2 separate regions of the Homo sapiens genome follow, and region 2 is reported to be linked to region 1. The links are microRNA targets in miRTarBase. Many come from high-throughput screens and were not tested one by one. Region 1 holds a microRNA gene; the other region holds the end of a gene's coding sequence.
Evidence for each region. The annotated mature microRNA hsa-miR-766-3p reads ACUCCAGCCCCACAGCCUCAGC and lies in region 1 at 1,226-1,247, shown strand. An mRNA with a match to its seed (bases 2 to 7 or 8) in the 3' UTR can be bound and repressed. Matches are read on the target gene's strand: a 7mer-m8 pairs with bases 2 to 8, a 7mer-A1 pairs with bases 2 to 7 and ends in A, and an 8mer does both.

Region 1 (3,224 bases):
GGCTGAACAACATAGTGAGACCTCATCTCTACTGAAATTTAAAAAAAATTAACTAGTGGCCGGGCGCGGTGGCTAACGCCTGTAATTCCAACACTTTCGGGGGCCAAGGCAGGTGGATCACCTCAGATCAAGAGTTCGAGACCAGCCTGACCAACATGGAGAAACCCCGTCTCTAGTAAAAAGACAAAATTAGCCAGGCATGGTGGCGCATGCCTGTAATCCCAGCTACTCAGGAGGCTGAGGCAGGAGAATCGCTTGAACCCAGGAGGCAGAGGTTGCAGTGAGCTGAGATCTCGCCTTTGCACTCCAGCCTGGGCAACCAGAGCAAAACTCCATCTCAAAAAAGAAAAAATTAACTGGTGCTGTGGCGCACACCTGTAGTCTCAGCTACTTGGTCGGTGGGTGGCCTAAAGTGGGAAGATTACTTGAGCCTGGGAAGTTGAGGCTGCGGTGAACCCTGATCGAGCCACTGCACTACTGCAGGCTGGGTGACAGAGCAACACCCTGTCTCACAAAAAAAAAAAAAGAGAGAGAGAAAGGAAAGGAAAGAAAAAGAAAGTAAATAAAGAGAGAAAGAGAGAAAGAAATAAAAAGGAAGGAAGGAAGGGAGGAGGGAGGGAGGGAATTCCAGTGGAAGGAAGGAAGGAAGGAATGGAGGAAGGGAGGGGAGGGGAGGAGAGGAGAGGAGCAGGGAATTCCAGTGGATTCAGGATTATCCCTATCATAAATCACTCACCACTTACTCCCTTGCATCCTACTGTGCTTTGTTTTTTTTTTGAGACAGGCTCTCACTCTGTCGCCCAGGCTGGAGTACAGTGATGCAATCAATTTCAGCTCACTGTAGCCTCCACCTCCTGGGTTCAACTAATCCTCCTGCCTCAGCCTCCCGAGTAGCTGGGACCACAGGCATGCACCACCATGCCCGGCTAATCCACTATGGGTTTTTTTTGAGTGGGAAAGAGAGGAGTGGCCTCACAGCTAGTGTGCCTGAATTGGCATGCCTGTGAGAGGAGCTTGCATGTGAGTGTTTTGTGTTACATGCGCTGTGATGGGAAAGAGGGTGCTATCAAATATACACAGAGGATTGCTTAGCCTGCCTGCCACCGAACAACTATGTCAAAAGTCCCCAGAGTCTTCACACAAGCCGTGGTGTATGAAGCTGCATCCTCAGGACCTGGGCTTGGGTGGTAGGAGGAATTGGTGCTGGTCTTTCATTTTGGATTTGACTCCAGCCCCACAGCCTCAGCCACCCCAGCCAATTGTCATAGGAGCTGGATTGGAAGAAGCGGAAGAAATCTGTTGCCTGAGTGGAGAAGACTGTACAATGTCCTGTCTCTCACCATGGGGGATTTTTGTGGCAGGAAATGAGAGTAATGAGGTCCCTGCCACCACCTTGAATTATGGGTGGCTCCAGAAAACCTTATTGTAGATTGAGGGGGAAGAGAAGGGAGAGCGAGGTCTTGTTGCATGCTATTTTCAACCCATGCTCTGATATCTCTCAAGGTTGTAGACTTTAATACTAAGAATTGCTATGTTATTTTAAATTTAATGATGTTCTTTGAATGGCTGAAAGCATGGCCAGGACCAGCAAAAAGGCCCAGTTACTTAATTGACTGAGCTCCATTAATTGTCCATTTGTGAGGTCTGGGGTTTGGTTCCCACAAAGGCAATTGACATTTGGGCCCAGTGAGAACACATGGCTGAACAGTAGGGTCATAGGAAGACCCACAGGCACAAGTCCATCCCTTCCTCTGAGACAGCAATGGTATTTCCATTGTTGCCATGTACTTTTACAGGAATCACCAGTGGTTGACTTGAGAGCAAATCAGCCAATGGTCTTGTTCAGTCACCAGCAGGGGCCTGAAATGGGGACTAACATAACTGGGAAACACTGTCCACCCTGGGAGGAAACCAAGCCCAATCAGAATATTATCATTAGATGAGGAATAAAGAGTTCTGACAGTGTGTATTTCACTGGGCTAAGCAGTCACCTAGCCTCCCAAGTATAATGGATGTGGTGAAATAAGAATAAAGTAACTCACGCCAATTGGATTATTAAGTACTTTACAATGTACAAGAAGAATTTAAGTTAGACACAAGTCAGTAAAGGTGGTGCTATGGTTTGATTGTGTCCCCTCCAAAATTCAGGTGTGGCCAGTATGATAGTATTAAGAGGTCGGGGCTGGGTGCAGTGGCTCACACGTGTAATCCCAGCACTTTGGGAGGCCAAGGTGGGCGAATCACAAGGTCAAGAGATCGAGACCATCCTGGCCAACATGGTGAAACCCCGTCTCTACTAAAAATACAAAAAATTACCAGGCGCAGTGGCTCATACCTGTAATCCCAGCTACTTGGGAGGCCGAGGCGGGTGGATCACCTGAGGTCGGGAGTTCGGGACCAGCCTAACCAACATGGAGAAACCCCGTCTCTACTAAAAATGCAAAATTAGCCGGGCATGGTGGCACATGCCTATAATCCCAGCTACTCAGGAGGCTGAGGCAGGAGGATCGCTTGAACCCAGGAGACGGAGGTTGTGGTGAGCTGAGATCACGCCATTGCACTCCAGCCTGGGCACCAAGAGCAAAACTCCATCTCAAAAAAAAAATAGCTGGGCATGGTGCCACACACCTGTAGTCTCAGCTACTCGGGAGGCTGAGGCAGGAGGATCACTTGAACCCGGGACGCGGAGGTTGCAGTGAGCTGAGATCACGTCACTGCACTCCAGCCTGGCGACAGAGTGAGACTCCGTCTCAAAAAAAAAAAAAAAAAAAAAGGTAGGGCCTTTAGGAATTGATTGGGCCTGGCCAGGCGCGGTGGCTCACACCTGTAATCCCAGCACTTTGAGAGACCAAGGCGGGTGGATCACCCAAGGTCAGGAGTTCAAGACCAGCCTGGCCAACATGGCGACATCCTGTCTCTACTAAAAATACAAACATTAGCTGGGCGTGGTGGCAGGCACCTGTAATCCCAGCTACTCAGGAGGCTGAGGCAAGATAATCGCTTGAACCCGGGAGGCGGAGGTTGCAGTGAGCCGAGATCGTGCCATTGCACTCCAGCCTGGGCAACAAGAGCGAAACTCTCATCTTAAAAAAAAAAAAAAAATGTGATTGGGCCATGAGGGCTTCTCCCTTGTTAATGGGATGAAGGCCCTTTTTTTTTGAGATGGAGTCTCGCTCTGTCGGCCAGGCTGCAGTGCAGTGGTGCGATCTTGGCTCGGCTAACCA
Region 2 (3,112 bases), not on the chromosome of region 1:
AGGACCAGGAGTGGTTCCAGTGGCCATGATACCAGGGATGAGGGGCCACAAACCCTTCTGGTTAACTCTCCCATTGGGTAGGGCTCAACTCTCTCTGGACACATTAATTTCTCTACAATCCTTCCTTGGCTCGCGGGGCTCATACAGCTCAAACAGGAGGAAAAGCATCTCTGGGAGCAGGCAGCCTCATGTGTCTGATTCGCTGCTCAATTCCAGGCAAAACTACAAGAATTACTCCATGGAGTCAAGGACACACTTTCGAATCCAGGCAGCCACACTCCAAGCCAAGTCTTCCCTAGAGAACAGCAGCAGATCCATGGTCTCATCAGTGTCCTTGTAGCTTTGTGCAGCAGTTCCGGGCTGGAAGACAGAGACAGCTGGACAGAGCTCCTGAAAACATTTCAAAATACCCCCTCCCCCTGCCCTGCCCTGCCTTTGGGGTCCACCGGCACTCCAGTTGGATGGCACAACATAGTGTATCCGTGCAGAAGCCGAGCTGGCATTTTCACCAGTGTAGCCAAGGGCCTTTGCCAAGGGCAGAGCAGGTGGAGCCCTCTGCCTGCCCTATCACACATACGGGTACTTGCTTTTCACTGTGATGTTTAAGAGAATGTATGAACAGTTTACATTTTCCTTAGAAATACATTGATGGGATCACAGTTGGCTTTAAAAACCAACAACAATCAACCACCTGTAAGTCTTTGTCTTCACCTATTATCATCTGGAGGTAAATCTCTTTATATGATGATGCCAAAGGGCAAATTGCTTTTCAAATTCAGCAAGTTCTCAGCTTGTGTGACGGAAGGTCCTTCAGAGGACCTGAGGAATGCCTGGGAGAGGCTAAGCCTCAGGCTTCAATGCTTCTGGGGTTGGGCATGAGGATGTACACAGACACCCACTACCTTACTACTCACACTTCATTTCACTCCTTTTGTAAATTTCCAATTTAAAAATCAAGCACGTCTTTTTAGTGAGATAAAATCTGAGCTCTTCTGTAGAAAAATCAATCTCTACCAGTAGAAAATGCCAGGGCTTGATGGAAGAGCTGTGTAGCCCTTTCTATGCCAAAGCCAGGAAATTTGGGGGGCAGGAGGAGGTTCTCAGAATCCAGTCTGTATCTTTGCTGTATGCCAAACTGAAACCACTGGGAATAATTTATGAAACATAAAAATCTTCTGTACTTCACTCCAAGGTACATTTGCTTACTGACAGCATTTTTGTTAAAACTGTTATTCTTGACCTGTTGTGTATGCGTTAGATTCTTCAGTTAAGAGAAAAGAGATATTTAAGTGATAAAATTTATGCCCTTAAGGGATCGTGCATCATGTATTTCAATAAAATATGTGTTGCATGAATCCTTAGGCCAGGCAGAAAGTCTTGATCAGAAGCCACACGGCCTATGTATGTTTTATTTAGACCACACAATGTTTTAAACTTTTTGAATAAGTTACCAGCATTCACAAATGGGGAGATTTTACAGATGAATCTGGTTCCTGGCCTGTAATTTAAAAACAAACAAACAAAAATGGCAACATTGAGCCTCATTCCCATGAGGCAACAATCAGCTAGAGCTAAGTCCAGGCTACTTTAAACACTTCTGTTACCTTTCTGGCCCCTAAAAGCATCTGAATTTGCAACCTCTAGGATTGTTAAAGTGAGAACTCAGGTTCAATGACCAACACCAGGTTTTACTCTTCACTTTCTGATGTCAGCACACTTCAACCTAACCATTTCCCCGTAGGGAAAATCATGCACACAGTAAAAATATTCATCTGTGAAAACGTTACTCCCCAAATGCATGAATGCAGTTTCTACGAGAGAAGAACCAGTTAAACTTTCCAATCTTCTAGGATTGCTGTATTTAACAAACACGAGTATCTGCCAAGGGTCTGGGTTAATATATAAAGATCCAGTCGGTCGGGCACGATGGCTCACGCCTGTAATCCCAGCACTTTGGGAGGTTGAGGTGGGTGGATCATGAGGTCAGGAGATCGAGACCATCCTGACCAATATGGTGAAACCTCGTCTCTACTAAAAATTAAAAAATTAGCTGGGCGTGGTGGCGCATGCCTGTAGTCCCAGCTACTTGGGCAGGAGAATCGCTTGAACCCAGTAGGCAGAGGTTGCAGTGAGCTGAGATCGTGTCATTGTACTCCAGCCTGGCGACAGAGGGAGACTCCATCTCAAAAAAAAAAAAAAAAGATCCAGTTGACCAGCCTCCTATGGGTGACATCGAATGAAGTAATGGGTTTTAGGCAAAATATATTATTAGGAAAAAAAGCAAAAAAACCCTCACCCAAGATTATCTTTTCCAATGAGTATTGTCAGAGTAGAAATGCTATGAAAAAAAAATCTCTCATATTATTAGAATGAAACAAAAGAATGTCCTCCATAGAGAGTAATCCCTTTGCAAGCTATCTCTTCTCCAAAGCCTGGATGCTGGGAGACCAACCTGTTTCTAGGCTCCTGGACAGGACAGGGTGAGCGGGTAGAGACAGGCTGCAGGAGGACAGGCCTCCATGGCTTCCCCACATGTTGGAATGTTGCCTGCTGCTGTATCAAAGCAGCACTACTCACAGGACACCAAACACATACTTTGGAAAATTGCAGTTTACAAAAAAACTCATTTCGGGTGCTTTTTTTTTTTTTTTTTTTTTTGAGACAGTCTCGCTATGTCACCAGGCTGGAGTGCAGTGGCGCGATCTCAGCTCACTGCAACCTCTGCCTCCCGGGTTCAAGCAATTCTCCTGCCTCAGCCTCCTGAGTAGCTGGGATTACAGGCATGCGCCACCATGCCCAGCTAATTTTTGTATTTTTAGTAGAGATGGGGTTTCACCATGTTGGCCAGGATGGTCTCGATCTCCTGACCTCGTGATCCACCTGCCTTGGCCTTCCAAAGTGCTGGGATTACAGGCATGAGCCACCACGCCCGGCCACGGGTGCTTTCATTTTAAAATTTGGTCAAGATGATTTCCTCGTCAACATTTGCTGTTTATTTCCTCCTGGGCTTTGTTAATTAATCCTATGTCACTTTTACCTCTGCTGCCCTGATAAGATAAATCAGTGGGTTTTGCCTCCTGTACCCCACCTGCAAATTCTGAGATAATCTATC

Region 2: the mRNA of TTC39A is a reported target of hsa-miR-766-3p. The part of its 3' UTR that is shown has no 7-base or 8-base seed match.

Annotation. Positions count from the first base shown.
Region 1 is chrX:119,644,786-119,648,009 of GRCh38, reverse strand. It overlaps MIR766 (microRNA 766), which reads left to right and starts at 1,162; the gene lies at 1,162-1,272. All of the region lies in intron 5 of SEPTIN6 (septin 6), which reads left to right. RefSeq lists an enhancer at 1-108.
Region 2 is chr1:51,285,385-51,288,496 of GRCh38, reverse strand. TTC39A (tetratricopeptide repeat domain 39A) reads left to right here. Exons shown (of 18, transcript NM_001297663.2): 18 at 217-1,239. The coding sequence ends at 340. Among named protein-coding and RNA genes, the nearest start is that of TTC39A-AS1, 43 kb to the left of the region's middle.